Homo sapiens: one gene and its partners. The protein of the gene in region 2 purifies or fractionates together with the protein of the main gene of each other region. This does not show direct contact. Each region holds a gene or a part of one and is shown on either strand. Other genes may lie near its edges.

Region 1 (7,810 bases), on a different chromosome or scaffold from region 2:
AGACCAGCCTGGCCAACATGGTGAAATCCCATCTCTACTAAAAATACAAAAATTAGCCAGGTGTGGTGGTACAGGTCTGTAATTCCAGTTACTTCGGAGGCTGAAGCACGAGAATCATTTGAACCTGGGAGGTGGAGGTTGCAGTGAGCCGAGATCGCGCCACTGTACTCCAGCCTGGGTGACAGAGTGAGATGCTGTCTCAAAAAAAAAAAAAAAAGAAAGAAAGAAAAAAGAAAAGAAAAGTATTTCTCAGGCCAGACGCAGTGGCTCACTCCTGTAATCCCAGCACTTTGGGAAGCCAAGGCAGGCGGATTGCTTGAGCCCAGGAGTTCAAGGCTACAGTGAACTAGGTGACAGAGCAAGACCCTATCTGAAAAAAAAAAAAGATATCTCTGTGGTGCTGTTACCAAATGCTGACTTGGCATTTACTTCTCAGCTTCTGTTGCTGCCCTCCCCTTTGGGGTGTCTTCATTAAACGTGTCCTGAGAGGGAATACGATTGAGTTTGCTCGCCACGTGTCAGTTTAGATGACCCACAAACCCCACATTAGATAGGGTTCTCATGATAAGCCACTTCATCCCTTAAATCCAGCCCACATGGCTGTCCTGGGCAGGTACCCGGCCCTATTGGTTTTGATAGGATAATAAGATCACATCCACAAAGAAAGGTCTGGGGGCATGGCAGGCAGCTGAAAGTTTTTGGACTATCCAGTCTTGCCTAAAATGCAGAATGTTCTGACTTCAAGGGCTCTCCCTCTGCTGTTGCCTTTTGAGACTGAAGAGTCCTTATTCTTTCTCTGACATTGTTTCTGGTCTTCTCTAGTTCTATTATGAATTAATTGAGACATAGAAATCAGAACCATATGTATCTTTTTTCCCAGTCTGAATGCATCAAGGTTTCAAGAAAGGAAGATAATCTTTTTCTTTTGTTTCTAGCACCTTCATGTTGAAGCCTCTCAGAGCATGGTCTAATTTTTTTTACAGGGCATAACAGTCCGTGATGGTACAGCTCCAGTGGATCTTTCTAGTGTCATCTACAGACACGTCCCTTGAAAAGCCCTATGTGAGAACCACACTCAATTGTCAGAATGTGGTATAATGTACTCTAATGCCCTCATGCCATTGCTCACGCTGTGTTTCCCTACTTGAAACGTTTTCCGCTACCCCATGCTTTTGGTATGGCGTTATGATAGAGTGGTTAAAAGCATGGGTTCTGGGGTCAAATAATTATGGATTTAAATTCCAGCTCTGCTTGGGCAAGTGTCTTAACCCCTGTGAGCCTTAGTCTCTTTACCTTTCAAGTGGGGATAATCATACTTATCCCCGGGGTTCAGCACTCAATTAGAGAATGCACATCAAGTGGTCATTGCAATGCCTAAGAGTAAACACTCGGTAAATGTTAATATTTCAAGGCCCAGCTTGGACACCTCTGCCTTTCCTTTTTCCTTGCTCTCCCTTAAACAAGATCCCCTATTCCCCCATGGCACTGGTCAATTTTTCATCTGGCTACCATAAGCCATTGTACATTAAGTGATAAGATAGTATTCCAACATGTTAACCATTTTTCCTTCTGTGATTTTTTTTTTTTTTTTTTTTTGAGACGGAGTCTTGCTCTTGTCGCCCAGGCTGGAGTGCAATGGCGTGATCTCGGCTCACTGCAACCTCTGCCTCCCAGGTTCAAGCAATTCTCCTGCTTCAGCCTCCCGAGTATTTGGGATTACAGATGTGCGCCACCACCTCGGGCTAATTTTTGTACTTTTAGTAGAGACAGGGTTTCACCATGTTGGCCAGGCTGGTCTCAAACTCCTGACCTCATGATCCACTGCTTCGGGCTCCCAAAGTGCTGGGATTACAGGCGGCGTGAGCCACCGCGCCCAGCCTTGTGATCTCTTTTCCCTAATTTCCCACCCCTCTATTCAAACCACTGGTCTTTTTGTACTAATACCTCAGGAAAAGGACATGGCAGCAGAAAACAAAGAAATGCTGAGACTGTTCCTGGCTTCTTGGTTTCAAAACTCCAGTCCCTTAGGGTATCAGAAAGAAGTTATAGATTTGATCTGGGGGAAGGACTATGAGGGACTGTGGCAGCTATGGTCTAAGGGCCAACACCGTTCAGCATTAGCCGATTGTTGCCGTATAGGACTTTGGGACCATGGCTACCAGAGCCTCCTGCTTTTGAAGAGAAACTAAAAACAATCAGGATTCTTAAAAAGTGAGTATAATATCAAACATCACCCATTCGTTGCATTTTTTCTTTCAACTCACTCATTCAACACAAATATATTCAGGAACAACTGATGGGTTAGAAGTTGGAAACACAAAGACAAACAAGATAGTTCCCGTACCAAGAGCTCAGTCTGGATAATGAGACACATAAAAAGAGGATATGGCATTGAGTGATAAGTCTTAGGTTAGTGATTTCCAAAGCATAATCACTGGAAAGCAACAGCAGGGAACTTACTAGAAACGCAAATTTGCAGGCCGGGAGTGGTGGCTCACGCCTGTAATCCCAGCACTTTGGAAGGCCGAGGCAGGCGGATCACCTGAGGTATGGAGTTCGCGACCAGCCTGGCCAACATGGTGAAACCCCGTCTCTACTAAAAATAAAAATTTAGACGGGTGTGGTGGCGCATGCCTGTAGTCCCAGCTACTAAGGCGGCTGAGGCAGGAGAATCACTTGAACCCAGGAGGCTGAGGTTGCAGTGAGCCAAGACCGAGCCACTGCACTCCAGCCTGGGTGACAGAGTGAGACTCTGTCTCAAAAAAAAAAAAAAAATGCAAATTTGCAGCCAGCGCGGTGGCTCACGCCTGAAATCCCAGCACTTTGGGAAGCCGAGGCAGGCGGATCACCTGAGGTCAGGAGTTTGAGCCCAAACTGGCCAATATGGCGAAACCCCGTCTCTACTAAAAATACAAAAATTACCTGAGTATGGTGGCACGCGCCTGTAATCCCAGCTACTCGGGAGGCTGAGGCAGGAGAATCGCTTGAACCTGGGAGGGTACAGTGAGCTAAGATTGCACTACTGCACTCCAGCCTGGACGACAGAGTAAGACTCCATCCCCGCCCCCCACCAAAAAAGCAAAATTTCAGCCCCAATTTACCAATCAGAAAGCTGAGATTAGTTTAACAAGCTCTCCAGGTGATTCTGATACACCCTAAAGTCGGAGAATCACCTTGATAATGGAAAGCAAAGAAGACTTTGGCACAGACAACCAACACACTTGAGCCAACCTTGAGATCCTCTGCCATCTATAAATCACTTTCACAGTCCCTTCTAGGCTAGATGCTAAATTGGTTGCAATCTGGTAATGCACAATGATGAGACACAAGTTGTATCTTGTCTCTGTAATAAGTAAATTGTAAGAACTTCAAAGGCAGGGTTGATTCTACTTTTGGTGTTTTTTCCATTCTTCTCGTATTTCAGATATCAGTGCAATACTTAGAAAATACGGCCGGGCGCGGTGGCTCACGCCTGTAATCCCAGCTACTCGGGAGGCTGAGGCAGGAGAATGGCGTGAACCCGGGAAGCGGAGCTTGCAGTGAGCCGAGATTGCGCCACTGCAGTCCGCAGTCCCACCTGGGCGACAGAGCGAGACTCCGTCTCAAAAAAAAAAAAAAAAAAAAAAAAAAAGAAAATACAAGTACTGAAATTTAAGTAGCTCTTTAGTAAATAAGAATAATTAACCTGGTGCAAGGGTTCTACCTTTATGAGGGAGAAATTGGAAAGCATATATGTACTTACAAATTTTCATAACTTTTCTTATCGTTGTAAAATATACATAAAACTTAGCATTTTAACCCTTTAAAATGATGTACAGGTCAGCAGCATTAAATACATTCACACTGTTGTGCAACCATCACCATTCTCCATTTACAGAACTTTTGCATCTTCCCAAACCGAAACTCCGTACCCATTAATTAATTGGTGCATTTTGCCTTGTTTTTTCTAATAGGATTTTTCTTTCTGTTGATTTGTATGAGCTCATTTTAAATTAGAGAGACCAGCCCTTTGTCTTCTGCCAATTTATTTTTTATTAATTCTATTTGTTGGTGATTTTTTAAAATCTGTTCAGAAAATTAAAAATTTTCCGTGGAATCATAAAATCGTGTTTAGATTATAAAATCCTTTATGATTTGACTGTTGCCGTCTTGAAAGTCTTCAACATCTCAATGTTATGAATATCTGCACTTACATTTTCTTCTAAGTTTTTGTTAACATTTCAATATTTAATCCACAAAAGATTCACTTACATGTATTTTTTCCCCAAATGGGTAATCAGCTCTTCAAACATTATTTACTGGACAGGCCATCCTTCCCCTACTAACGTAAATGTCATCTTTTCATATTAAATTTCTCCATGCGCTGGGTATTTACTCCTACATCTTCCATCTAGTGCTTTTGAGAATTTTCAACACTCTTCCATTACACGCATGTACCATCATTTATTTAATCAATCTTCTATTGGTAGGCATTTGGGACGTTTCCTGCTCTTCCATACTAAACAATGCATAGAATTTTGGACTACATTAAATAATTCTCTGCCTCAGTGGTTCAAGTTGCGTAAATTATGCGTTTACACTTTTCTTCGGATTACTTTTAAAATGACAACCACTATGTTTTGCTGGTCTCAATTACCAGAGAATTGGCAAGAAACCTGACAGCTGGGGCTTAGGATTCCCTGCGCCAGACCTCCGAGCTACACCAGAGGGCGTACTTTCCTTACTCGGCCTCGGCCACATCCGGGTTCCACCGCAGATTCGGGCAGGGAGCGGGCGGAACCTTTCTACCGCGTCTCTAGCTAACACGCACGGCGGGGACAGTTTAGGCCTCCGCGCACCGTTCGCCGGGAGTCTTGCAGTTTGCTTGGTGCAGGGAAGGCGGGCGCGGAGGTTCTATCTGTTTCTTCCTCCTTCGTGAGCAGCATGGACGTGCTAGCGGAGGAGTTTGGGAACCTGACTCCGGAGCAGCTGGCGGCGCCGATCCCGACTGTAGAGGTCAGTGCCAGGCACGCAGGGAGCGTCAGGGACAAGGATGCGCCCTGAGGGGGCGTTGCCCGGAGTGCTCGGGCCGCCAAGGGGGCGGGCTGGCGGTTTGTGCGCATGCGCCGGGCTTCTGCGCATGCCCAGAGCGTCGCGCTTGCGAGTCTTTTTTCCAGAGCCGGCCTCCGCGTGCGCGAGTGAAGGCTGATCCCAGAGGAGCTGTCAGCCGCTGCGGGGGCCGAGAAGCCCCGCTGCTGGCTCTAGGGTTGGAGCTCTTCCAGCATAGGTGTGCGTGGGGAGGACTGACCCTCGCACTTACTGTGGGGGACGTATTGCATGTTTGCAGTCTTACAGAGGACACGGGGCCAGGGAGCTCAGGCCATTTGCATGAGGCACCACAGCCGGCTGTGGGGGTAAAACCAGATCGTCTGAATTCCAAGCTAGTCATCTTTCCTTTTAACTTGAAGTTCCAGTTTGGGTTGCAGGGGAATTTTAAACGCCCTCAATATTTACTAAAGAATTTGCCTGTGTGTTTTCTGGGGGAGAGACTCCACAGCTTTCATCAGCTTCTCGGAAGTTAAGGACAGCTGCCCCACAGCGAGCTGCCCAGTGAAGTGCGGCTGTCGACATATTTTGTTATCTGATAAGGCACATTTTGTAATCTCTCTGAGCCTCAAAATCTACACTGACGTGGAATAGGGAAGTGGAGACGTGGCCGGAGAAGATAGCAAAGGAGAGATTTCAGGGAAAGAGAACAGGATACTTGAAACCTCCTCGGCAAGACCATTGGATGTTTTTGAGGAAGGAAAGTAAATCCAGTAGTATTAGAGTGAAGAAAAATAGAGGAGAAGAGATAAAAGACAGGGTTAAGTAAGGGTCTTGATTATGAAAAGTTTCAATAAACATCTGACAGAGCTTGGACTTTGTCTTGGAGCAGAGCTTTTGAAGGGTTTAAGCAGGAAAGTGACATGATCAGTAAGTCTATCGGATTATAAGAACCTCCTTGGCTAGGCGTGGTGGCCTGTAATACCAGTAGTTTGGGAGGCCAAGGCGGGCGGATCACTTGGGCTCAAGAGTTTGAGAACAGCTTGGGCGACATGGCAAAACCCTGTTTCTACAAATAATACAAAAATTAGCTGGGTGTGGTGGCGTGCACTTGTCCCAGCAACTCAGGAGGCTGAGGTGGAAGGATCACTTGAGCCTGGAAGGTCGAGGCTGCAGTGAGCCGTAATTGTGCTGCTGCACTCCAGCCTGGGTGACTGAGACCTTGTCTCAAGGAAAACAAAACAAAACCTCTTTATAATAGTTTGACAAGTTAAGGAAGTTGAATTAGCAGTTCCAACAGATTCAGTCTATAAGTGCATGCAATAGGCTGCTGATCATCAGGCAAAACTATTTTTTTTTTTTTTTTTTGAGACGGAGTCTAGCTCTGTCGCCCAGGCTGGAGTGCAGTGGTGTAATCTCGGCTGACTGCAACCTCTGCCTCCCGGGTTCAAGCAATTCTCCTGCCTCAGCCTCCCAAGTAGCTGGGATTACAGGCGCCCACCATCACCGCCAGCTAATTTTTGTATTTTTAGTAGAGACGGGGTTTCACTGTGTTGGCCATGCTGGTCTCGAACTCCTGACCTCGTGATCCACCGCCTCGGCCTCCCAACGTGCTGGGATTACAAGCGTGAGCCACCGTGCCCGGCTGCAAAACTGTATTTTAACCGTGAAAAGTGAATATCAAAGAGCCAGCATTCACTGAGCACTTGCTAATGTGCCAGGTTCTGTTTAACCATAACATGCATTATGTTATTTAATCCTCTGAAATAAGTACTATTTTCACCCCCATTTTGCCAGAGAGGCCCAAAGATGTTAAGTAAATAGCCTTGCATTAGAAGCCTGGTAGTGGCTAATCTGGAATTTGGACTCTTGTCAGTCTGACTCGAGTCTTCATCCCTAACTGCTATCGGACCGCTTCTCCAGAGAGCTGAAGAAATAAGCCTGGGAGATTTCTATTTCTTATCTGAATTTACACAGCTATGAAGTGAACAGTGCTATAATTCCAGCCTTCTGATTGAAGAATAACAGTTCCTCTTCCTGCACTCTGTATCCAATCCACCATCACCTCTAAAAAGTCCTGAGTTCTTAATCTATGCATATCTGAAACTTCATTCCCACCGTTTTCCAGCCCAGAACGACTGTCCTCTCTTACTTCCTAACTGGCCTACCTGGCACCTGACTTGTCCCAATCCAGTCTGTTCCTTGCTCTGCAGCCAGAGCTGTCCGTTTAAACACACAAACATGGTTATGTTGCTCCCTTGGTTAAAGTTCTTCAATCTCTGCCTATTGCTCTTAGGGCAAAATCTAGTGTTTACCATGTTTGTAATAAATTTCCTCAGTCTGACCAGTGCTTACTTCTCTAGTCTCTTTTCCCATGGTTCCCCCCTCTCCCTCCCCTGAGATCTTTCTACTCTGCTCAGTTTCTTCTGGATCGCTCTCCCCTTCCTATTTGTAGATTAAATCCCACATATCTATAATATAACTTCCCTAGGAAGGCCTTTCCTGATTCTCCCAGAAGATGGTAGATCTCTGCTACTTGCTGCCATTTCCTTTTAAATTGAGATATTAAAATATTTACTTAAACTTTCCAACTTCAGTGTTTTCGCTGCAACTTTTTCTAGTTAGGAGCTCAGTTTTACTTGAACTGGCCATGCCTGGTGTGTATTTTTTTGTGCTTATGGTAGCACAGCAGCATGGTAGTATGGTAGAAACAACACAAGCTTTGGAGCCAATTAATCAGTTACTTGTTGAATAAATATTTGTCAGTGTTACTGAGTACTTACCT
Region 2 (7,036 bases):
GACAGCCTGTAGAATGAGCCTGGTGGAGGTATGGCAGTGCGGAAAATAGGCCCTTTCAGATCAGCTACATTCTAGCGCAAGGAGACGGTCATTTCCTAAAAGCTCACTCACACAGCAAAGCCGTGACTCCTCCCTGCTTCCTGGGCTGGGGCTGGGGGCAGTTCTGAGATCACCTGACTGGGGGTGGGAAGGCTGAAGGGCGCAGGTTCTGAAATCACAGGCCTGGCTTCCAGTCCTCATCCTTCCCCTTGCTAACTGTGGACTCAGGCAGGCACCTCGCCTCCCTGAGGCTAAGCATCCTCACCTCCCAAGGCCGCTGTGAGCACGGAGGAGGCAAACAGAGCCGATGGTGGCTCAGGGTTTGGAACTCTGGACACACGGGGGTCACTGGCACCTCCACCATCACTTTGCAGCCAGTCAAGGAAACAGGGTGAGCAGGCACACAGGACAGGCCCCATTCCCACGGCCCATAAGGGTGAACCCCAGGGAGTGGAGGCCAGGCCCTCCCAGCACAGGCTTACAACATTGCTGCTGTGGCATGCCCCAGGCCTCCGTGCCCGTGAAGGCCTCCCTGTGCCTCACGTTCTCATGTGCATCATGGGATATGAACACTGACTCTAACTGTGGGAAGGCAACATGGGGCAGAGCAGCCCAGCAGTGCCTCAAAAAGCTAAACGCAGACCCAGCAATTCTGCTACCAGGCATATACCTAGAAGAAATGAGAATTCACGTTCATCATAAAAACTTCTATGTGAATGTCCACAGTGGCATTATTTATAATAGCCAAAAAGTAGAAATAACCCAAATACCCATCAGCTGATGAATGGATAAACAAACTGTGGTCTCCCATACAATGGAACATTATTCATCAGTAAAAGATCAAATATTGGCTGGGAGCGGTGGCTCACACCTGTAATCCCAGCACTATGGGAGGCCGAGGCAGGCAGATCACAAGGTCAGGAGTTCGAGACCAGGCTGGCCAACATAGTGAAACCCCATCTCTACTAAAAATACAAAAATTAGCCGGGCTTGTGGCGCGTGCCTGTAGTCCCAACTACTCAGGATGCTGAGGCAGAATCACTTGAGCCTGGGAGGCAGAGGTTGTGGTGAGCCGCAATCAAGCCACTGCACTCCAGCCTGGGCAACAGAGCAAGACTGTGTCTCAAAACAAACAAACAAAAAAAAGAAAAGCTCAAATATTGATGCAGGCTATAGCTACCATGTGGATGAGCCCTGAAAACATCATGCAAAGTGAGAGCAGCCAATCACAGCAGGCCACATACTGCATGATTCCAGCTATGTGAAAAGTCCGGAATAGGCAAAACCATAAACAGAAAATAAGGGGAATGGTTGCCTGGGGTTGGAGGTGGGAATGGGGGGCACAGACTGATCGCTAATAGGCAAGGGGTTCCTTTAAAGGGGGACAAAACTGTCCCAAAACAGACTGTGGCGCTGGTTGCACAGCCCCATGAGTAGACTAAAATCCATTGCATTACACACTGAAATGGGGAAACTGTGTGGTGTGTAAATTCTATCTCAATATATCGGTTATAAAATGTAATAATCACCACCATAGGGTTATTGTGGGGTTAAAGAGGTAACTGAGGTAAATGCTTTCAACAGTCTGCATACGGTCAATGCTCAATACATGTTGGCCACAATGACAAGCTGCTGGCCCAGCAGCAAGGGGAGGGGGCAGAGGTAGCAACCCGGGGCCCTCGCAGCTGGCAGGACTGAGGGCTCACAGACGCTGCCATGGAGCTGCCCCTTGGAGCCTCCATGACAACAGCGGCCATCATCACTGGCACCAACTCTCTGCCAGGCGGCATCCTAAACACTTCACTGTGGACTCAGCCTGTCCTCCTGGGGACCTATGAGGCAGGCATTATCACCATCACCACTTTGCAAGTGAGGAAAGTGAGGCACAGAAGGATTAAGAAACTTGCCCACGGTCTCGCAGCTATGGTGTGATGGAGTTGGATCTCAATCCGGTCTGACCCCAGAGCCCCAGCTTTAACTGCTGCACACTTCTGCCTCTCCTGTGTTCCTTCAGTTTTCCCATCTTTGAAATGAGACCAATATTAACCCACCCACGAAAGCAAAGAGACCCCATGACACTCTCCACACCGAGAACCCTAGCTGAGGTTTCCCATCGTTTCCTGCCCGTGTTCCTGAGTCCACACCACCCACCCACACCTGCTTCTCCCCTCTTTACCTTCAAGTCCCATAATTACCTGAAATAGATACAGCTTTTCCGCCAGACTCTTGGCCAAGTACACATCGATCTGGGAAGAAGGGAAGACGACTTAACCGGGAGACTGGACACAGTGCTGACCTCCCCGGGCTATGCCAGCGCTTCCAGCTTCAGTTAAGGGCAGTGGCTCAGGGAAGCAGTTTGGGGAAGGAGGAAATAGCTCAGCTCATGCTAAAAGCAAGCGGATCCAAGGCTGCACACTGGGTATATTCAGGAATCCCTCCTGAAAGCTCCCAGGGGAACCAGGGCAAGAGTTCACCTGGTACCCCCACCCAAGTTCACAATCCCCCAGTAAGCACACATCTTCCCTGGGGCTGCACTGATCGGGAAACGTCCTACAGCCTGGGCAAATGCTCTTCTGAGAGGCAGGCAGGCGAGGGCTCACCTAGGCCTGTGCCTCCTGGCTGGGCCCTCCACCTGCCCCTCCTGGACCAGCCTGTCACCCCTTCTTAAGGGGTCTGCAAGGCCCTTTGTGACTGATGGCTCCACTTCCTTTCTTCCCAACACTAACCACCCCCACCCCGCCACGCAGCAGTTTACCTTCCTGCTTCCTAACTCCTCCTATAAACCACATGCTCTCCTACCCCTGGGCCTTTGCACATGCTTTTCCCTATACCTACAGAGCCCTTCACACATGCCTCCCCTGAGCCTTGACTGCTCGCTCCTCCAAGGACTTGGCTGAGGCACAACTTGGGCAGGAAGCATTCCAGGCCCCCTGGCTGCAGAGGGCACTGCCTCTGTCCTCGGAGTCCCTTGGACTCTTCTATCCCATCACCAACCCCCCTGTTGTAACTCCTGCTACTGCAGTGTAGATGCAGCTTAAATGCATCTAAATAACTCACATCTAATAACTTAGCAACATCCCCCAAGCAAGGAAAAACCACCTCTATTCATCTCCGAGGACCTTCTCCTTGCCCCTGCCCTTCCCACTGGAGGTCAGGCTCCGCATATAAGGAGGCTGAAGGCAGATGCAGTTACTTTTTGCCTTTTGCCTTCCAAAGGTCTAAGTCCTGGGTTAAAAGGATTCTGAAAGGTGAGTTTGACTATCAACAGCTTTCTCTAAGAAGGGAAACCTGTGCCGGCCATGGTGGCTCATGCCTGTAATCTCTGCACTTTGGGAGGCCCAAGGTGGGTGATCACTTGAGGTCAGGAGATCGAGACCAGCCTGGCTATCATGGTGAAATCCCATCTCTACTAAAAATACAAAAATTAGCCAGGTGTAGTGGCGGGCGCCCGTAATCCCAGCTACTCAGGAGGCTGAGGCACAAGAATCGTTTGAACCCAGAGGCAGAGACTGCGGTGAGCCAAGATAACACTACTGCACTCCAGCCTGGGAGACAGAGTGAGACTCCGCCTCAAAAAAAAAAAAAAAAAAAAAATTAGTCGGGCGTGGTGATGGGCACCTGTGATCCCAGCTACTCAGGAGGCTGAGGCAGGAGAATCGCTTGAACCTGGGAGGTGAAGGTTGCAGTGAGCCGAGATGGCACCACTGAACTCCAGCCTGGGCAACAGAGCAAGACTCTGTCTCCAAAAAAAAAAAAAAAAAAGGGAAATCTGCCTCCCACTGCCTGTACCCGGAGACTCCTGCCTCATCAGTCTTGCCCACAGCCCATTAGCTTCCCAGGGAAGGGGACCCTGCCCTGCTCACTGATGTGTCACAGCCCCCAGCACACAGTGGTCCAGTGAACAGCTGCTGAATGACTACATCTGCGTAAGCCTGGGAAGGAGGGACTGCTGAGCCCATTTATTCATTCATTCATTCACCAAATAGTCGCCGGGTACCTGGGTGCCAGGCACTATACTCGGCTTTGCGGCACAGCAGTGGACGGGAAAGAAAGCAATCAACTGATATCTAGGGGATGACGGGGGCTAGGCCAAGTATGAGTTACCGCCAAGGTAAGGGCAGAGAGAGGCACGGGAGGGTGCAGGAGGGGAGCTGGGTGTGGAAGGGCAGTCAGGGAAGGCCTCCCTGATGAGGTGATGCCAGATCAGAGACCTGAAGGAAGGGAGAGGTCAGCCACGCAGGGGTCTGGGGGACAGCAGAGGGGACCAGGCAGAGGGAACAGCAAGGGTTAGGGGTCCCAGAACATCAACAGGTCCCAGACTGGCCTGAGGACACATGGAAAGGACCCAATTCCACTGCCTGTAGCCCCGGCGGCAGGGGACAGAGAGCAGCAGTTACCTCCTGTACAACTGGGTCATCCTCTTCATTGGCCATACTAGAGGAGAGCCAGCCGCGCAGTCCTTCAGCTCGATCTGCAAAGGAGGGCGAGAGACTGGGACCATCAGTCGTTCAACCAACATTTCCTTGTGCCTATTCTGCAACAGGCCCTGCACTGGGAGGGGGAGCCCACAACCAACCAACTGACCTTCTTTCTACATCTACATTGAAGTCAACAATGGATGACCAACCCTATACCCCATCAGCCAGAAGAAATAAAGAAAAAAAGAAACACTCAAGCAGCGGGTGCAAGCGGGTAGACCAAGCCAACAAGTGTGGGCTGCACCTGCGGGGAAAGGCAAATGACTGGCTTTAATGGTTTCTTCTCTGCTCACAGAGAATTCACTGCCAGACAGAAGGATAGAGGTTGGCTGGTCCCAGCCATGATTAAAACACTGGAGAACTGAGGGCCCTGGGGACGCTTTAAAGAGGAGCCAGAAGTTGAACAGGAAGACAGACAGTCCAAAGCTCTCTGATATTTGATTTTCAAGCTGACTTTAACTCGAATCCTGAGTGAGATGACTCTTCTGTGTTTTTGGTCTAAAAATGACCTCTTCACACACTCTTCTGTCCTGTATTCAACACAATGACCCTATGAGGTGTGGTGATTGTCACTGTTTTATAATGAACAGACTGGAACTCAGAGATACTGTGTGCATTTTGACCCAAAGTCACATAGCAAGCAGGATGATGAACTGGACTTCAAATCCAGGCTGTCTGACCTCAGGTGACAGGTACAGGTAGGGGAGTTGAGAGGCGGGAAAGGCCTTTCTGCTGGGGAGGAGGCACGTTAGGTGCGCCTGGAAGAAGAGAGAGCTTTGGGCAAGTCATGACAACAGAGGGGAGGAGAAATTCCAGGAAGAGGGAAGGCTGTAGGTCTCCACGGGGCAGGTTGAGTATTTCAGCTGGTCTGCCCCTTCACATACCCAAAGAGAAGAGGGGTGGTCATAGGTAGGATGGTACTCAGGCACCCCCAGGCCTCAGCAGTTCCCAAACCTCTGCTCTTGGGTGAGACTAGCATGAATTTTTTTTTTTTTTTTTCTTGAGACGGAGTCTTGCTCTGTCACCCAGGCTGGAGTGCGGTGGTACGATCGGCTCACTGCAACCTCTGCCTCCCGGGTTCAAGCGATTCTTGCCTTAGCCTCCCAAGTAGCTGGGATTACAGGCATGCACCACCAGGCCCGGCTAATTTTTCTATTTTTAGTAGAGACAGGGACTTGCCATGTTGGCCAGGTTAGTCTTGAATTCCTGACCTCAGGTGATCTGCCCGCCTTGGTTTCCCAAAGTGCTGGGATTACAGGCGTGAGCCACTGCGCCCGGCTGAGACCAGCATGATTTTTGTCTGATCTACTTAACATTTGAACTATCTAATATTTATTTATTTTTAAGACATGTCTTGCTCTGTCACCCAGGTTGAAGTGCTCTGCCGTGATTTTGACTCACTGCAACCTCTGCTTCTTAGGTTCAAGTGATTCTCCTGCCTCAGCCTCCCAAGTAGCTGCAATAATTGGCATGCACCATCCGCTCAGCTAATTTTTGTATTTTCAGTAGAGACGGGGCTTTGCCATATTGGCCAGGCTGGTCTCGAACTCCTGGCCTCAAGTGATTCACCTGTGTTGGCCTCCCAAAGTGCTGGGATTACAGGCATGAGCCACCACACCTAGACAAAAGCCAAAGTCTTTATCATCCCATGTAAACCCTAAACAATCTCCTGCCCCTTGACCTGCCAGACCTCATCTCCCACAAGCCTCCTACCCTCCTCTCTGCTCCAAACCCACTTCTGGGGCTTTGTAGCTGCTCTACCCCCCCGATAACCTCATGGTCCCCCCTTCACCTCTTTCCGGTTTTTGCTCAAATGTCACCTTGTGGCTAAGACCTTCCCTCTCCAAATCACATTGCAAACTGCCTCCCCCACCCCTCAATTCCCTTCTCTGCTCTGGTTTTCTCCATAGCAGGTGTCTATCACCATGTGACAGTTTACAGCTCTGCATCTGTGCCCATCTCTATTGCCACTAAGCTGTAAGCTATGTGAAGGCAGAGATTTTGGTCTATTTTGTCCCTTGTGGTACCCCAAGTGCCTAGTACACAGCAGGCACTCAATACATGTTTGTTGTCTAAATAAATGAACCATGGGAATGCTATTTAATAGGAAGCTACAGAAGGATTTCGGGCAGAGGAAGACATGGAGCGGGTAGAAAGAGAAACTTCAGGGAAACAGCTATCGTAACAGTCCCAGAGATGGAGGATGGAATGAAAATCAGGAGTCGCATCTGGACAGTTTCAGTGCATCTCGACTGTCTGCTGTGCAGACAGAGGGCAGTGTAGAGCGGAGAGCCCAAGGCCTCACCCCATCTGCACCGGCTGCCAAGTGCCACAGATATGTCAAGCTCCTGCCTTCTCTGCAGCTGGGCAGTGGACAACTGAGAGGCTGGGGCCTGGGAGGTTCCCAAGACGCAATTGTTCTTTCTTGGCTATTGCTATGCCCTGTTGGCCTCTGCCCTGCCAGGGATCAGGGAGGCTGAGGTGCCCTGTCAGCTAGAGAGCTGGAGCTCCTTCCTCTG
Region 3 (7,883 bases), on a different chromosome or scaffold from region 2:
ATACTTCAAGCCATGAGACTAGGTGAGACCCCTAAAGGAGTGGATGTGGACAGAGAAAATAAGAAATCCAGGCACTGAGGCCTGGGGCACGCTGATGTGTAGAATTTGCTATACATGTAATAAATAAAGCAAGAAATTAACACCCTTAAAATCTTGGAAATCCAAATTTTAAAAAATCATCTCAATAGAAAAAATGGGCAAAGGACATGAACAGGCAACTGGCAAAGAGAATGGCCATGTCTGGACATGGTGGCTCACTCCTGTAATCCAGGGTTTTGGGAGGCCGAGGTGGACAGATCACTTGAGGCCAGGAGTTCATGACCAGCCTGGGCAACATAGAGAAACCCTGTCTCTACTAAAAATACAAAAAATTAGCCAGGCACAGTGGTACACACCTTTAATTCCAGCTACTCAGGAGGCTGAGGCATGAGACTCACTTGAACACAGGAGGTGGAGGTTGCAGTGAGCTGAGATCTCACCACTGCACTCCAGCTTGGGCAACAGAGCAAGACTGTCTCAAAAAAAAAAAAAAGGAGAGAGAATGGCCAATAAAACCACTCTTCACCTATGAAAGTGACAAAGATTTAAATAATAAGCAGGCTGTCATGAGTTTTTTTTCAAATGGACACTCTCATACCTCACTGGAAAGACTATAAACATAATATTTCAAGGGGAGCAATTTGTCCAGTTAAATCAACAGCCTTTGAAATGTTTATATCCCTAATCCAGCAATCCCACTTTAAAAATATATTCCAAAGACATCAACAGATATACAGTCACAGATATAAGTAAAAGGATATTCATCAAAGAGCTATTTATGGTAGCAAAAATTCTGAAATAACTGAAACAATCTAACAATAAATGAATGGTTAAAAAATACCCATTTTATTTATTTATGTTCTTTTTATTTTATTATTTTTTTTTTGAGACAGTTTCACTCTTGTCGTCCAGGCTGGAGTGCAATGGCGCAATCTCAGCTCACCGCAACCTCCACCTCCTGGGTTCAAGTGATTCTCCTGCCTCAGCCCCCCGAGTAACTGGGATTACAGGCATGCGCCACCATGCCTGGCTAATTTTTTTTGTAGTTTTAGTAGAGATGGGGTTTCTCCATGTTGGTCAGGCTGGTCTTGTACTCCTGACTTCGTGATCCACCCGCCTTGGCCTCACAAAGTGCTGGGATTACAGGCATGAGCCATCACGCCCGGCCTCTTTTTTTTTTTTTTTTTTTTGAGACAGGTTCTTGCTCTGTCGCTTAGGCTGAAGTGCAGTGCAGTGGCAATTTTGGCTCACTGCAGCCTCGACTTCTCCAGCTCAAGCAACCCTCCACCTCAGCCTCCTGAGCAGCTGGAACTACAGGCCTGAGACACCATGCTTGGCTATTTTTTTTGTAGTTTTTGTAGAGACAGGGTTTTGTCATGTTGCCTAGACTGGTCTTGAACTCCTGGGCTAAAGTGATCTGCCTACCTCAGCCTCCCAAAGTGCTGGAATTACAGGCATGAGCCACCACGCCCAGCCAGAAATGGCTTGCTTTTAAGAATGCTACCAATTCCACTGTAAAAGGACAGATTTCCTTTTTTTTTTTTTTTTTTTTTTTTTGAGAGGGAGTTTTGCTCTTGTTGCCCAGGCTGGAGTGCAATGGTGCGATCTGAGCTCACTGCAACCTCCGCCTCCTGGGTTCTAATGATTCTCCTGCCTCAGCCTCCCCAGTAGCTGGGATTACAGGCATGCGCCAACACGCCCAGCTAATTTTTGTATTTTTAGTAGAGACAGAGTTTCTCCACGTTGGTCAGGCTGGTCTCCAACTCCCGACCTCAGGCGATCTGCCCGCCTCGGCCTCCCAAAGTGCTGGGATTACAGGCATGAGCCACCGTGCCCAGCCATATTTCCCTCTTTTACAGTGGAAGTGTGGAATGCATTTCCTTTAGCTATATATTTCTTATTTAGAATATTTGTAGGATATTGACTAAAGAACAGGTATCAAAAAATTGAATGATCTACAAGAGAGATAAGAGAGTTCCCTTACTAAAGATGTTTACATAGAAGCTGGGTAAAAATTTACTACATAGGGTTTGTAAGAAGGATGCATGGCTCTAGTAGAGGATTCCCTATGATCAGCATGATTTAGCATTGTGTCTGGCATATAGTAGGTGCTCAATAAATATTTATTGAATGAATAAATACATCATTTCTATGGGCCTTTCCAAACTTGAGAAATTGTGATCCATAAAGCCTCCCCTCACCATTCCAGTTCTCCTTGCTTTCTTCCTTCTCTAGATTGTAGAAACAATTATGAAACACTAATATTATGAACCACTAATTTAATGGCTCTTAATTACATACTGTATTGTCTTTTATTGTTCCCTAGTTATGTTAGGAGTTTAAATTCTGCCTCCCCAAAAAGAGTGCTAGTTACCAGAAATCAATTCTATTTAACTAACGTTTATTGGGCACTATATATTAACTACTAGCACCTGTCCTACAAAACCTTCTATTCTAAAAGGCATAGAAACGTTAAAGAGAGACAGTGCACTAAGTGTCCTAATAAAGGTATATACAAAACGCTATCGTAGACGGGGGAACAATTCATTTTGCAAGAAAGGCGGCCCAGGAAAACTACAGGTAGCATTTCAGCTAGTCTTCATAGATAACAGGAGTTTGTCAGGCTCTTGGGATAATATTAATAGATTAGGGGGAAGTTGATGCTATAGCAAAGACAGATACAAGAGGCTGTCTCGTTTTCTGCTTTAATGTCTCTCCCCATGCGCGATAGAAAACTGCCATTCTCTAGTATACAATCAATACAGAAATGGAAGCCCAGGGGAGAAACGGTAGGGAGCCAGAAGGGGGCTGATCCAACAACCTGACGGAAAGCGTTGTCTATTTCGCAGCCTGGCCGGGGTGAACAAGTTTGGCAAGTGTCGGACCGAACCAGGTCAAGCCTTACCTGCTGCCCCTCCCCAAAGCGGAGCCCAAGCCGCGACCAACTTGAAATGTACTGGGCTTCCTCAAGTCGGTGGCGTTCTAAGCCCGCCTCCCGGAGCTCCCTATTGGTGAGTTTTCTCGGCCAATGCAGGAGAAGCCGAGGAGGGAAGTCCGCCCTCTTGAAGCCTAGGAAGAGAAGGAGGGAGGGAGCGAGTACGCCCGGAACCGAAGCTTGCGAAGCGGGTCGCAGAGAGAGATGGGCGTTGCAGAATCAGCTGGGGTCACTTATTTCCGGTCTCACTCCAGATGAAGGAGCCACTAGCCGGCGAGAGTTCACCGAGGGAACGTGACACTCATATCTCATCGAGGGACCGTGTTGAGGGAGCCCCTACAGAGAGGCCAAAGGAGGAGAGGGCCTACGGAGAAATGAACCTCTGTAAAAGCTGCTCTTTAGGGATCAGTCTTTTTGTGACTCTAGCTTCATAGCTTGGTCTCTCCATTACTCCAGCCTTCCTTTCAATCATACACTGCCTCTCTCCAGCACCACCAATGGATACTTCTTTTCTAAAAATGTTTTTCTGTGGGTTGCTGCCGTGTCTGTGAGAAGGTGGGCAGAGGGTTCAAGAAAGGAAGGATTTGGGATCAGCGTACCAGGGTTGGGGAGACAGGGCAGGAGCCCAGCTTTTTCTGCATTTTCCACTACTTTCCACTTCCTGCGAGCTCCTTGGGAAAGCCAGCAGAGTGGAAGGAGGAGTCCTATTTTCACAGAAAGCAGAAACAAGGGAGAAAGGTTCAGAATGGAGATGAAATCTAGGAGTTAGTCAAGAAGAACATCCCAGATGTCAGAGAAAATGGCCTGTAGACTGGGAGGCTGTAGGTGTAGTGGCAAGCTCCCAGTCTTTGCCATAGGACAGAAACATAGCTGTGAAGCTTTGGAGAGCTTGCTTAACCTTATTAAGTCTGTTTCCTCATCTGTAACAAGAAGATGATAGTTCCTATCTTATAAAGTTGTGAGGATTGAAAATAGTGTATGTAAAGCACATGGCACATAGTTGACACGTGTCCAAGAAATAACTAGTAAAAATGGGTAGCTTCCTGCAAATATTTCTCTCTCTCTCCCATCCCCGGGAACATTATTTTCAGTATCTTGCATCTGGGGGGCCTCCAGCCTCTGAATTAGCTCAGGACCCTGAGTGAACTTTTTAAATCCTTAGGATTTTTCTTTTTCTCCCACTTCCCTTGGTGCCTTCCAGCTGGACACAAACTCATTCCTAAAATATGTGGATGGAAGCTATGGTAACCATGGAGACAGGGCAGGTGGCAAGGAGAGGCAGAGACAGTGTGAGAGACCAATAGACAGATAGGAAGAGAGAAGATATAAGGAATGTTTCAGACAGAGATCGTCAAGCAAGATGGAAAAAATAAGACGTCTAAGCAAGACTGAGATTAAAGAGATGCAATGTGAGAGAGTGTATTACAAGGTTCGCTCTTCTTCCTGCCCCTGTCCTATCTCCCTGCCCACAATAATACGGGGTGGAGGCACCTGGAATGTCCCTTGCCTTATCTAAAAGTGCTCCCATATCCACCTTCCTCATACTTATCTAAGAGGTCTACATAAGGGAGCTGAGGTCCAAGTTTCTCTGCGATGGGTGTTCCGTTTTTGAGAGATGGGGCGGGGGTGTATCTGTGTCTGACTCCAGGCTGGACCGTGATCTCCTTCACAATTAAACTACAGGAAGAAAGCCACATCTCTTGCCTCTCTTTGCACAGTATGGACACCGGCTGTGGATCCAAAAAGCCTTTCTACACCTTTCTTACACAGTGTGCCATGTGCCGTGTATGGCAGGTCAGGTCTGGCGCACAGGAGCGCACAAACACACCAAGTGCGGAGAATGGGGATCTGCTGAATCTCAGCGAAGAATCTGGATGATGGTCCCTGTCTGGGTCGCGGAGGAGTCCCCTAAGGAACACTTAGGTTTGTTGGGGCTGAGGGGAGGTCGGCTGAGAAAAGGAAGTCAGGATTGGAGCCTCTAGGTTTTTGAGGGTTTATGTGTGCATGAGTGGGGGAGCAGTTTGGTGCCTGACGCCCCCACCCGCAGTGACTAGGCTATAAATAGCACAGCAGAGCTCCGCCCCCCCCCCCCCCCCCCCCCCCGCCAAGCTTCTCTCCTCCCGAGCCGGCGCTGTGCCCGGGGCGCTCCGGGAGGAGGGACCAGGATCCGGCGCCGGGGCGCAGATACTGACACCAAGGGAATCCGGGTGCCCCCCCCCCCACGCCATGCGGGCCCCCAGGAAACTGGCTCCGCCACCTCGGCTGCCCCGTGGCCACGGCCCCAATCCTGGCCAGGCGGAGATTCTGCGGACATTCAGGTATCTATCTGGGCACACAGCCTGGGAGGGGAAAGAGCAAGGAGTGATGGGGAACATCGCAGGGGCAATAGAACCCCCCAATTCTCCCTCCACCCGTTTTAGGTCTCAAATGCAGGCTGCTTCCCTCCCCCCACTCAATTTTTGGGGTTGTGGCAAGCTAAAACAGGTTAGGAATGAGAATACATGTGTGACTGTAGGGTGCATGTATGTGGGTGGGTGGCGTTCAGCATCCTAGAAAGGGGGATCCCAAGTGTGGATAAGACAAGGGGGACAGAGGAAAGGTCTGATAAGCCATGGGGTGAGGGTGGGGGTGCGGACATCCCTGCGCGTGCACGAACGCATTTGCACGCGCGCTAGTCCTTCAGTGCGGGTGCACCCTTCCCACCTCCTCAGGCATGCGCTGCGGGGGAAGGGCCGGCTCAAAGGCATGAGTTAGAGGAAGGACTGTATGCCGTGAAGGTCTCCTCCACCCCACGCTGGGTCCCTGCATCTGTGCCTCAGTTTTCCTGCCGAATCTATCAATGAGATGTCTCTCTTGCAGGGATCGGCTTCGTCACTGAGACCTCAGGCCTCTGCCAGCCACTCCCCCTCCCCATACCCCTAGTCATCCTCGGCAGGTCTCAGTCCCGGCTCCATCTGTGCCCTCGCCCCAGCCGCAGCTATGTTGCACACCGAGGGCCACGCTCTTCTTCGGGCGGTGGGTCAGGGTAAGCTACGCTTGGCCCGTTTGCTTCTGGAGGGAGGCGCCTACGTGAATGAGGGTGATGCGCAGGGGGAGACTGCGCTAATGGCAGCCTGTCGGGCCCGCTACGACGACCCCCAGAACAAGGCACGCATGGTACGCTACCTCCTGGAGCAAGGCGCGGACCCCAATATCGCAGACCGATTAGGGCGCACGGCGCTCATGCACGCTTGCGCCGGGGGTGGGGGCGCCGCGGTGGCCTCGCTGCTCCTTGCCCACGGCGCAGACCCCTCAGTCCGAGATCACGCGGGCGCCTCGGCTCTTGTCCACGCCCTGGACCGCGGGGACCGCGAGACCCTTGCCACACTGCTGGACGCCTGCAAGGCCAAGGGTACGGAGGTCATCATCATCACCACCGATACCTCGCCCTCAGGCACCAAGAAGACCCGGCAGTATCTCAATTCTCCACCATCCCCAGGGGTGGAGGACCCTGCTCCCGCCTCTCCTAGCCCGGGGTTCTGCACGTCGCCTTCGGAAATCCAACTGCAGACCGCTGGAGGAGGAGGGCGTGGGATGTTATCCCCTCGCGCCCAGGAAGAAGAGGAGAAGCGGGACGTATTTGAATTCCCTCTTCCTAAGCCCCCCGATGACCCATCCCCTTCCGAGCCGCTCCCCAAACCACCACGCCATCCCCCAAAACCACTCAAAAGGCTCAACTCCGAGCCCTGGGGCCTAGTGGCCCCTCCTCAACCAGTCCCACCCACTGAAGGGAGACCGGGGATCGAGCGCTTGACTGCCGAATTCAATGGCCTGACCCTGACCGGTCGACCCCGTCTTTCCCGACGTCACAGCACCGAAGGCCCTGAGGACCCGCCCCCATGGGCGGAGAAAGTGACTAGCGGGGGTCCTCTCTCTCGCCGAAACACAGCACCAGAAGCTCAGGAGTCTGGTCCCCCTTCAGGGCTGAGGCAGAAACTGAGCCGCATGGAGCCAGTGGAGCTGGACACCCCTGGACACCTTTGCCCTGACTCGCCTGAGTCCAGCCGCCTGTCCCTGGAGCGCCGCCGATACAGCGCCTCCCCGTTGACCCTCCCTCCAGCCGGCTCGGCTCCCTCTCCGCGCCAGTCCCAGGAGAGTCTGCCAGGGGCAGTATCTCCGCTAAGCGGAAGGAGGCGGAGTCCGGGGCTGCTGGAGCGGAGGGGCTCGGGGACGTTGCTCCTGGACCACATCTCGCAAACGCGGCCGGGTTTCCTACCCCCTCTCAACGTCAGTCCCCACCCTCCCATCCCTGACATTCGCCCACAACCCGGAGGTCGGGCGCCTTCGTTGCCTGCCCCTCCTTATGCCGGGGCGCCAGGCTCTCCCAGGACCAAGCGCAAATTGGTGAGACGCCACTCCATGCAGACTGAGCAGATCCGCCTGCTGGGGGGCTTCCAGAGTCTAGGTGGGCCTGGGGAGCCAGGGCGCTGAGAGGAGTGAGAGGAGCCAAGGAGGGTGGGGATTAGGACCTTAATGGGATAGGTGGGAGAACCAGCTCACACACACACCACGAACAAAGGGATCTCTTGCATGTGCTCATGGGTGCACAGTGCACCCACACATGGTTAAACATGTGTCCATAAGCACAGTACTCTTATTAGCAAGAAAGAATAAGTACTCTATTTACTGGGTATATACACACATGTATTCATGCCCTGGTCATTTCACATGCATATGGGATTACTTGTGTACCTACAGGCACAGCATATCAATAAACACACAGGGCTAGGGTCCCAAACTCTCTTGCATTTGTTCAGAAGCAGTAGGGAACCCTTACTTATGGGCAGTCTCCGATGTCTTTGCCCTCCTGCAGAAGCAATCCCTTGCTTTCCATGTATGCCCTGAAACACAGCCTATCATGATTTTGCAC
Region 4 (8,006 bases), on a different chromosome or scaffold from region 2:
CTAAACCGGCCTGGCCAACATGGTGAAACCCGGTCTCTATTAACAATACAGGATGGGCGCGGTGGCTCGCACCTGTAATCCCAGCACTTTGGGAGGTCAAGGTGGGCAGATCACGATGTCAGGAGATCGAGACCACCCTGGCTAACAAGGTGAAATCCCGTTTCTACTAAAAATACAAAAAATTAGCCCACGCCCGCAGTCCCAGCTACTCGGGAGGCTGAGGCAGGAGAATGGCGTGAACCCGGGAGGCAGAGCTTGCAGTGGGCAGAGATTGCGCCACTGCACTCCAGCCTGGGCAACAGAGCAAGACTCTGTCTCAAAAAAATTAATTAATTAATTAATAAACAATACAAAAAGAAAAAGTAGCCAGGTGAGATGGTGTATGCCTGTAAACCTAGCTTTTTGGGAGGCTGAGGTGGAAGGATTGTTTGAACCTGGGAGGTGGAGGTTGCAGTGAGCTGAGATTGCGCCACTGCACACTCCAGCCTGGGTGACAGAGGGAGACTCAGTCTCAAAAAAAAAAAAAAAAAAAAAGACTGGGCGCGGTGGCTCACGCCTGTAATCCCAGCACTTTGGGAGGCCGAGGCGGGCGGATCACCTGAGATTAGGAGTTTGAAAGCAGTCTAGCCAACATGGTGAAACCTCATCTCTACTAAAATGCAAAGAAAAACTAGCCAGGCGTGGTGGTGGGTGCCTGTAATCTCAGCTACTCAAGCTGAGGCAGGAGAATCGCTTGAACTCAGGAGGTGGAGGCTGCAGCAAGCCGAGATGGCACCACTGCACTCCAGCCTGGGCGACAGATTGAGACTCTTTTTCAAAAAACAAAAACAAAAAAAAAACAAAAAAACCCAGCAGCGTCACCAGGTCCGGTTGGCAGACGTGCTCCGTCACCCCACTGATTAATTCTGGGCGTGGGGCTGCGCCCCTAAGGCGCTTGCAATCCCCCAACCGCTGAGGGCTTTAGAGCCATACTAGGGAGGCAGACAGGTGCGGAGACTTCCGCAAAGCAGGTGCTGAAACCGAGGGTCCCAGGGGTCCTGGGAAAAGAGGCCCGAGCACAAGCTCGAGGGACGAGTACCGGACGCTGACAGGGGAGAGGGGGCATGGGGTGCGGAGGAATGGGCTGGGGCGGGCAGGGGCCGCAGCTCACAAGGAGGCTGCGCTGACCCAGACGGGGCCTCCTGGGCCAGGCCAAGAAGCTGGAAGTGCACCCAACGGCCAGGATGGGGGAGCCAAGGGACACTAGGGCAAAGGACATGGGGGGCTGGGGGTGAGTGGGGAGGCCCTTGTGACTCTCCTCGTTGGCAGGAAGAGAGAAGGGGACTGAGAGGGAAACTAGAAAGAAGCTGAGCATGAGAGGGGTCAGAGATCAACGGCATCACCCACAGCAAGGAAGGGGAGGGGAGTTTTCCTCCCAGACTGGGCAGAGAGACAAATGCTGGGCACCAGGCGAGTGGGGGTGGGTGCTAGCGACCGGCTCCTCGGCAGGTGCTCTGGTGGCTTCACCGGAACTCCCCCGGGACCCGCTGCTCACCTGGAAAGAACACAAACATCTGGTCGGTGGGGTCATCGTTGTGGGCCACCAGCACGGTGAGGTCCGTGCGCCGCGGCCGCCCCTCACTCGGCTTGTCCCCAGATTGGGCTTTGAACTCCTCCAGGGTCTGGTCAAGCTCGTCCTGGGTCACCAGATAGCCACGGTCGTGGCACAGCTGCAGAGAGAAAGAACCAGCTGACCCCAGGGCAGAGAGAGGAAGGCGGCCAAAGCTCGTGACCCGGAAGTCAGACCTGCGGCTGCTGCAGAGGACAGAGGTGAACAGCAAACGGGATGAACACTCACTGTGTGCTCCATGACAGCCACCCCGGCCCCCACAGCCTCACACCACAGGATGGGACCAGTATGATCCTGAGAGGCTCCCAGAGATGTCCAGCCTTGACCAAGACCGTCTGTCCACCCAGCCTCACAGAAACCTGGCAGGGAGCAAAGCCCTCCAAACCACTTTGCAGAGCTACCCTAAAGGCAGGGACAAAGGCGGGGCGCGGAGGCTCACGCCCGTGATCCCAGTACTTAGGGAGGCTGAGGCAGGAGGGTTGCTGGAGGCCAGTTCAAGGATGCAGTGAGCTATGATTGCACCACTGCACTGCAGCCTGGGCGACAGAATGAAACCCTATCTCTTAAAAAAAAAAAATGACAGGGACCGAAACAGATGTGACTTCAGGCTGACAATGTTTGAGGATCGGAGAAAGAAGAATCAGGCTGCGGGGGGCTTCGCTGAGGACAAGGGCAAAGGGTGGGAAGCAAGACAAAGCAAAAGCTCTCAAACGGCCCCAATGGCTGAGGCAATACCCTGAACCGCAGGTCCTCAGGCCTGTGCCCGGCTTCCAAACCGGACTCGACCCAGTGGCCTCCATCTGCCCCAGACCCCAAGGCACGGGTTCCGAGCTCCACGTCCCCATCGAAAGCCCCAGCTCGCCCGCTGCTTCCCAACCACCAACTCTGCCAGCCTCGGATGCTGAAGACTCCATGGGGTTCAGGACGCAAGGACAAATAGCGACGCTGAATCACAGAGAAGGGCAGAGTCTGGGGGCGCCCCCCGTCCCCATTCGCGGCTTCCTCCTCCTCTCGCCGCCACGCGCGCCGCACCAGCCCAAGCCGCCCACCCACCCCTAAGCACCGCACCCAGACGTCTCGAAACCCCCTCCCTTCCCCGCTGCCGGCTCAGGTCGGGTCCAGCGCCTGGTATCCCCGGCGACCTCTGGGCCTCCCGTATCGGCCCGGCCCTTCATCGCTGCTGCTCCGACGAGAGTACGAGGAGACGCCGTGCTCGACCCCACCTCGGGCCCCTACACCCGCCGCCCGCGCCCCCGCCCCCAACACCAGGCGCGGCTCACCTGCATGATGGTCTTGCGGATTTTCCAGAGCCGGTACGTCTCCTCCTCGTCGTCCATGGCAGCCTCCGCCGCCGCCGCCGCTCGCACCCCTTCTCCGCGCGAGAACCCGCGCGGACTGCGCCTGCGCCGAATCCGAATCAGGCCCCCTCCGCCTAACCCCGCCCCGCGCTGGTCTGTCGTCGGCGAATGCCTGAATGCAGCAACGTCTCGGATCGGCAGCGCCAAGGGCAGCCCGAGCCTTACGAGAGCGGCAGTTGGCTGAGCGAGTCTCTCGCCTCCGTAGTTCTCGTGTGTCTTTGGCCGCACAGCCTCTCGGGAGTTGTAGTTTCCGTTCAACTCCCACCTTGGAGCAACAGTTTAGAATCCCACGAGGCGGGGGCGAAGTGTGAGCGGGGAAACTGAGGCCTGGATGGGGTCAAGGGGCAGCTCGGCTCCTAGGGATGGTCTGGGAGCCTAGTGGGAACTCTATAAATATTTGTGCATCAAACTGTACAGGGTTTCCTCCATTGGCTCCTGGCCAGGTCAGGGTTAATTCCCTTGGGCCTCAGTTTCCCTACCTGTGCAATGGCAATAAAGTGTCCCTACTTTAGACGGTTAACTGAGAGTCTTAGGCATCTCTCTAGGTGCTTATTAAGTCCCCTCACCTCTGTCCTCTCCCCTGAGCGCCACCAGCCTAGCCTGGGTATCTCCCCAGCCTAGCCTGGGTATCTCCCCACCCCAGACTCTTCCTGTCTTTGCAAACCTCCTCACTTCCCCAGGTTCACGGAGAACCCCAGCCCAACACTTCCTGTGTGCAGGCTATCAGTAACTTATTCAGTGATGCATTCGTTAATTCAACATTTACTCAGCAACCTACAGTGATGGTGAATAAAACAGGCCAAGTATCCCTTGCATTCAGATAAAGACAGGATTTAGTAAAATATAATAAATAACGTGGCCGGGCGCGGTGGCTCATGCCTATAATCCCAGCACTTTGGGAGGCTGAGGCGGGCAGAGCATGAGATCAGGAGTTCAAGACCATCCTGGCTAACACGGTGAAACCCCGTCTCTACTAAAAATACAAAAAATTAGCTGGGCCAGGTGGCAGGTGCCTGTAGTCTCAGCTACTTAGGAGGCTAAGGCAGGAGAATCTCGTGAACCTGTAAGGTGGAGGTTTCAGTGAGCCAAGATCGTGCCACTGCACTCCAGCCTGGACAACAGAGCAAGACTCTGTCTCAAAAATAAAATGAAATGAAATAAAATAAAATAAATAACAACGTTAGAAAGTGACAAAGCTACGGAAGAAGAAAGAGCAGGGAGGCTAAGTGACATGGGGAGAATGGGAGAACTGCAGTATCACATGGGGAGGTCAGGGAATACAGTGAGGATAGATTCAAGCAAAAATCCCATTAGCAGTGGTGGCTCATCACTGTAATCCCAGCACTTTGGGTGGCCGAGGCAGGCAGAGCATGAGATCAGGAGTTCCAGACCAGCTTGGCCAACATGGTGAAACCCTGTCTCTACTAAAAATACAAAAATTAGCCAGGTTTGGTGGTGGGTGCCTGTACTCCCAGTTACTCGGGAGGCTGAGGCAGGAGAATCACTTGAACCCGGGAGGCGGAGGTTGCAGTGAGCCGAGATCGCACCACTGCACTCCAGCCTGGGTGACAGAGCAAGACTCCATCGAGAAAAAAAAAAAAAAATCCCATTGGGCGCGATAGCTCACACCTGTAATCCCAGCACTTTGGGAAGCTGAGAGGGGAGGATCCCTTTGTTGTAGTTTTGTAATTTTTAGTTGTAAGTCACGGACTTTTTTACACTGATATTTGAGATTCTTTTTGGGGGGCTGTCAGGGGCTACTTTTTTTTTTTTTCCTGACACGGAATCTCGCTCTGTCCCCCAGGCTGGAGTGCAGTGGCAGGATCTCGGCTCACTGCAAGCTCCACCTCCCGGGTTCACGCCATTCTTCTGCCTCAGCCTCCCGAGTAGCTGGGACTACAGGCACCTGCCACCACGCCCGGCTAATTTTTTGTATTTTTAGTAGAGACGGGGTTTCACCGTGTTAGCCAGGATGGTCTCCATCTCCTGCCCTCATGATCCGCCCGCCTCGGCCTCCCAAAGTGCTGGGATTACAGGTGTGAGCCACCCCGCCCGGTCTGTGCAGGCTTTCTTATCTAACTACCTAACTTTTCTTTCTCACCTTGAGGCCAGGAGTTTGAGACAAGCCTAGGCAACATAGGAAGACCCCATTTCTTTTTTGTTGTTGTTGTTGTTTTTTGAGACCGAGTCTCGCTCTGTTGCCCAGGCTGGAGTACAGTGGCATAATCTCAGCTCACTGCAGCCTCCGCCTCCTGGGTTTAAAGGATTCTCCTGCCTTGGCCTCCCGAGTAGCTGGGATTACAGGCGTGAGCCACCACACCTGGCTAATTTTTTTGTATTTTTGGTAGAGATGGGGTTTCACCATGTTAGCCAGGCTGGTCTTGAACTTCTGACCTCAGATCATCTGCTTGCCTCGGCCTTCCGAAGTGCTGAGATTACAGGCGTGAGCCACCGCACCCGGCCAGGAAGACCCCATTTCTACAAAAAAATTTAAAAATTAGCTGGGCGTGGTGGGCGCACCTGTAGTCCCAGTTACTCGGGAGGCTGAGGTGGGAAGATCTAGGATCGCCTGAGCCCAGCGGTTGAGGCTGCAGTGAGCTGTGATTGCGCCACTGCACTCTAGCCTGGGCGACAGAGCAAGACACTGTCTCCAAACAAACAGAAAACAAACAAAAACCAGAAGAGGAGAGGGAGGAAACCTGGGGTTGCCTGGGGATAGCTGTATCAGGCAGACAGCACAGCCAGGATAGAGGCTCTGGGGCTGTGCCTCACCTGGAGTGTTCCTGGCAGGGAAGGGGCAGGAGGGGGTCAGAGGGCAAGGTGGGGCAGGTCCCATGAAGCCTTGCTGGTCAGGGTAAAATGTCTGGAGCTGCTGTGTTGGGAAATGACTGTTGGGAGCCAGGGCAGAAGCAAGAGACCAGGGAGGGAGTGGGAAGGCAAACTTGCCACAGGTTGGGGTGGCTCCAACTACGGTAGGGGCAAGCACAGAGCGGGGAGGGTGCCACAGGGCGAGAAAAAGAGGGAGAAAGGGAACAAAGCTGTCCCTGTGAGCAGTGAAAAGAGGGGTGGGAGGGTGGAGGCGTGTAGGTCGAGGTGAGCTCTGGAGTTCAGGGCAAGGTCTGGGGGATGGACGTGCAGGCAGGGTGGCCACGTGGTGAAGATTAGAGCCGGGAGCCTGGACCAGGTCCTGGGAGCAGAGCAGAGTCCAGGAGAGTAAGTCCAGCCCTGCTGGTGTTCAGAAGCCCGGAGAAGGAGGGGAGGCAGCAGCAGGAGGGGAGGGAGGCTCAGCACAGACACTGGAGCAGCCCCTGAGCTGCAGACCTGGCTGTGTGATCTCAGGCAGGTTACTCAACCTCTCTGTGCGTCCCCTCTCCCCTCCCTTGTAAAACAGGGACAAGAACAGCACCCACTTCGTAGGGTAATTGGCTAATAATTGCAATGTACACAGAGTGGCGCCTGACACCAGCACTGCATAAGTGTTCCCTAAATAGGATAAAGGGCAGGAGGTTGCCAGGTCTCCTGGAAACCTGGTGAGGAAGGTGTCTAGGGGCAGAGGGAAGGGAGTGGCTATGTGATGCCACCGCCAAGTCAGCCTGAGGACTGAGCAGGGATTCGCCTAGCAGACATTGCTTGTGACTCAGGGAAGGGGGCCAGTGCCTGGCAGGACGGATTTGAGGGAGGAGAGGAATTGGAGATGTGGGGCAGATACATGGGGCGGGGAGGGTCAGGAGACGGACAGGCCTCAGGAGTGGATTTTATGACACAAGAAAGGGCATCTGGAGTAAAGACCAAGCAGTGACCTGCAAATCTGGGGGCAGGGGTGGACTGAGAGGCTGAGCCCAAGCCAGGGGCGGCCTGGATGATAACAGCAAAGCCAGAGGCCCGGAAGTCAGGCCATGATCCACACACAGGGCAGGTGAAAATGTAAGATGGTGCAGCCGCTATAGAAAGCAGTCTGGTCGGCCAGGCGCAGTGGCTCACGCCTGTAATCCAAGCGCTCTGGGAGGCTGAGGCAGGCGGATCAACTGAGGTCAGGGGTTCGAGACCAGCCTGGCCAACATAGTGAAACCCCGTCTCTACTGAAAATACCAAAATTAGCCGAGCATGGTGGTGCAGGCCTGTAATCCCAGCTACTTGGGAGGCCGAGGGAGGAGAATCGCTTGAACCTGGGAGGTGGAGGTTGCAGTGAGCCGAGATCGTGCCACTGCACTCCAGCTTGGGCAAAAAGAGTGAAACTCCATCTCAAAAAAAAAAAAACAACAAACAGTCTGGTGGATCCTCAAACTGTTACACAAAGAGTCACCATATGACTCAGCAATTCCACTCCTAGGCATACACCCAAGAGAAATGAAAACATACGCCCACACAAACACTTGTACGGCTTTACAAACTCAAAAAGAGAAAACAGCCCATAGCCGGGCATGGTGGCGCATGCCTGTAATCTCAGCTATTCAGGAGGCTGAGAAAGGAGAATTGCTTGAACCTGGGAGGCGGAGGTTGCAGTGACCTGAGATTGCGCCACTGCACTCCAGCCTGGGTAACAGAGTGAGACTCTGTCTCAAAAAAAAAAACCCCAGATGTCCATCCACAGATGAATAAATAAACACAATGTGATCCCTCCACACACTGGAATATTTCTGAGCCATGAAAAGGAATGATGAGGCTCTGACACAGGCCACAATGTGGATGTAGCCTGAGGACCTCATGCTCAGTGAGAGAAGCCAGGCACAAAAGAACACGCAGTGTGTGATCCCATTTCCATGAAATGTCCAGGACAGGCCAATCCACAGAGACAGGAGGGGATGTGTGTGTGCCAGGTCCTAGGGGAGGAGATGGAGAGTGAAGGCTGATGGGGTCTGGGCTTCCTTTGGGGACAATGAAAATACTCTGTGCTGGGTGCGGTGGCTCACGCCTGTAATCCCAGCACTTTGGGAGGCCTAGGCAGGCGGATCACCTGAGGTCGGGAGTTTGAGACCAGCCTGACCAACATGGAGAAACCCTGTCTCTACTAAAAATACAAAACTAACTGGGTGTGGTGG

Evidence for each region.
Region 1: the proteins of POLR3E (region 2) and POLR3B purify together in Homo sapiens (affinity purification with mass spectrometry; 9 studies listed by BioGRID and IntAct, with this or other methods). This does not show direct contact.
Region 3: the proteins of POLR3E (region 2) and POLR3GL purify together in Homo sapiens (co-immunoprecipitation; 6 studies listed by BioGRID and IntAct, with this or other methods). This does not show direct contact.
Region 4: the proteins of POLR3E (region 2) and POLR2E purify together in Homo sapiens (affinity purification with mass spectrometry; 6 studies listed by BioGRID and IntAct, with this or other methods). This does not show direct contact.

Annotation. Positions count from the first base shown.
Region 1 is NC_000012.12:106,352,957-106,360,766, forward strand, and holds the start of POLR3B (DNA-directed RNA polymerase III subunit RPC2), read left to right. Parts: upstream 1-4,791; 5' UTR 4,792-4,923; coding exon 4,924-4,995; intron 4,996-5,153; exon of another isoform or gene 5,154-5,266; intron 5,267-7,810. UniProt on the Homo sapiens protein: Catalytic core component of RNA polymerase III (Pol III), a DNA-dependent RNA polymerase which synthesizes small non-coding RNAs using the four ribonucleoside triphosphates as substrates.
Region 2 is NC_000016.10:22,300,405-22,307,440, reverse strand, and holds part of POLR3E (DNA-directed RNA polymerase III subunit RPC5), read right to left. Parts: intron 4,511-7,036; 5' UTR 4,473-4,510; coding exon 4,437-4,472; intron 2,286-4,436; coding exon 2,235-2,285; intron 1-2,234. UniProt on the Homo sapiens protein: DNA-dependent RNA polymerase catalyzes the transcription of DNA into RNA using the four ribonucleoside triphosphates as substrates.
Region 3 is NC_000001.11:145,959,830-145,967,712, reverse strand, and holds the start of POLR3GL (DNA-directed RNA polymerase III subunit RPC7-like), read right to left. Parts: upstream 3,024-7,883; 5' UTR 2,945-3,023; intron 1-2,944. Other genes in the region: ANKRD34A (ankyrin repeat domain-containing protein 34A), read left to right, coding at 5,954-7,444. UniProt on the Homo sapiens protein: DNA-dependent RNA polymerase catalyzes the transcription of DNA into RNA using the four ribonucleoside triphosphates as substrates. Specific peripheric component of RNA polymerase III which synthesizes small RNAs, such as 5S rRNA and tRNAs.
Region 4 is NC_000019.10:1,092,370-1,100,375, forward strand, and holds the start of POLR2E (DNA-directed RNA polymerases I, II, and III subunit RPABC1), read right to left. Parts: upstream 3,007-8,006; 5' UTR 2,947-3,006; coding exon 2,890-2,946; intron 1,710-2,889; coding exon 1,535-1,709; exon of another isoform or gene 1,387-1,534; intron 1-1,386. UniProt on the Homo sapiens protein: DNA-dependent RNA polymerase catalyzes the transcription of DNA into RNA using the four ribonucleoside triphosphates as substrates.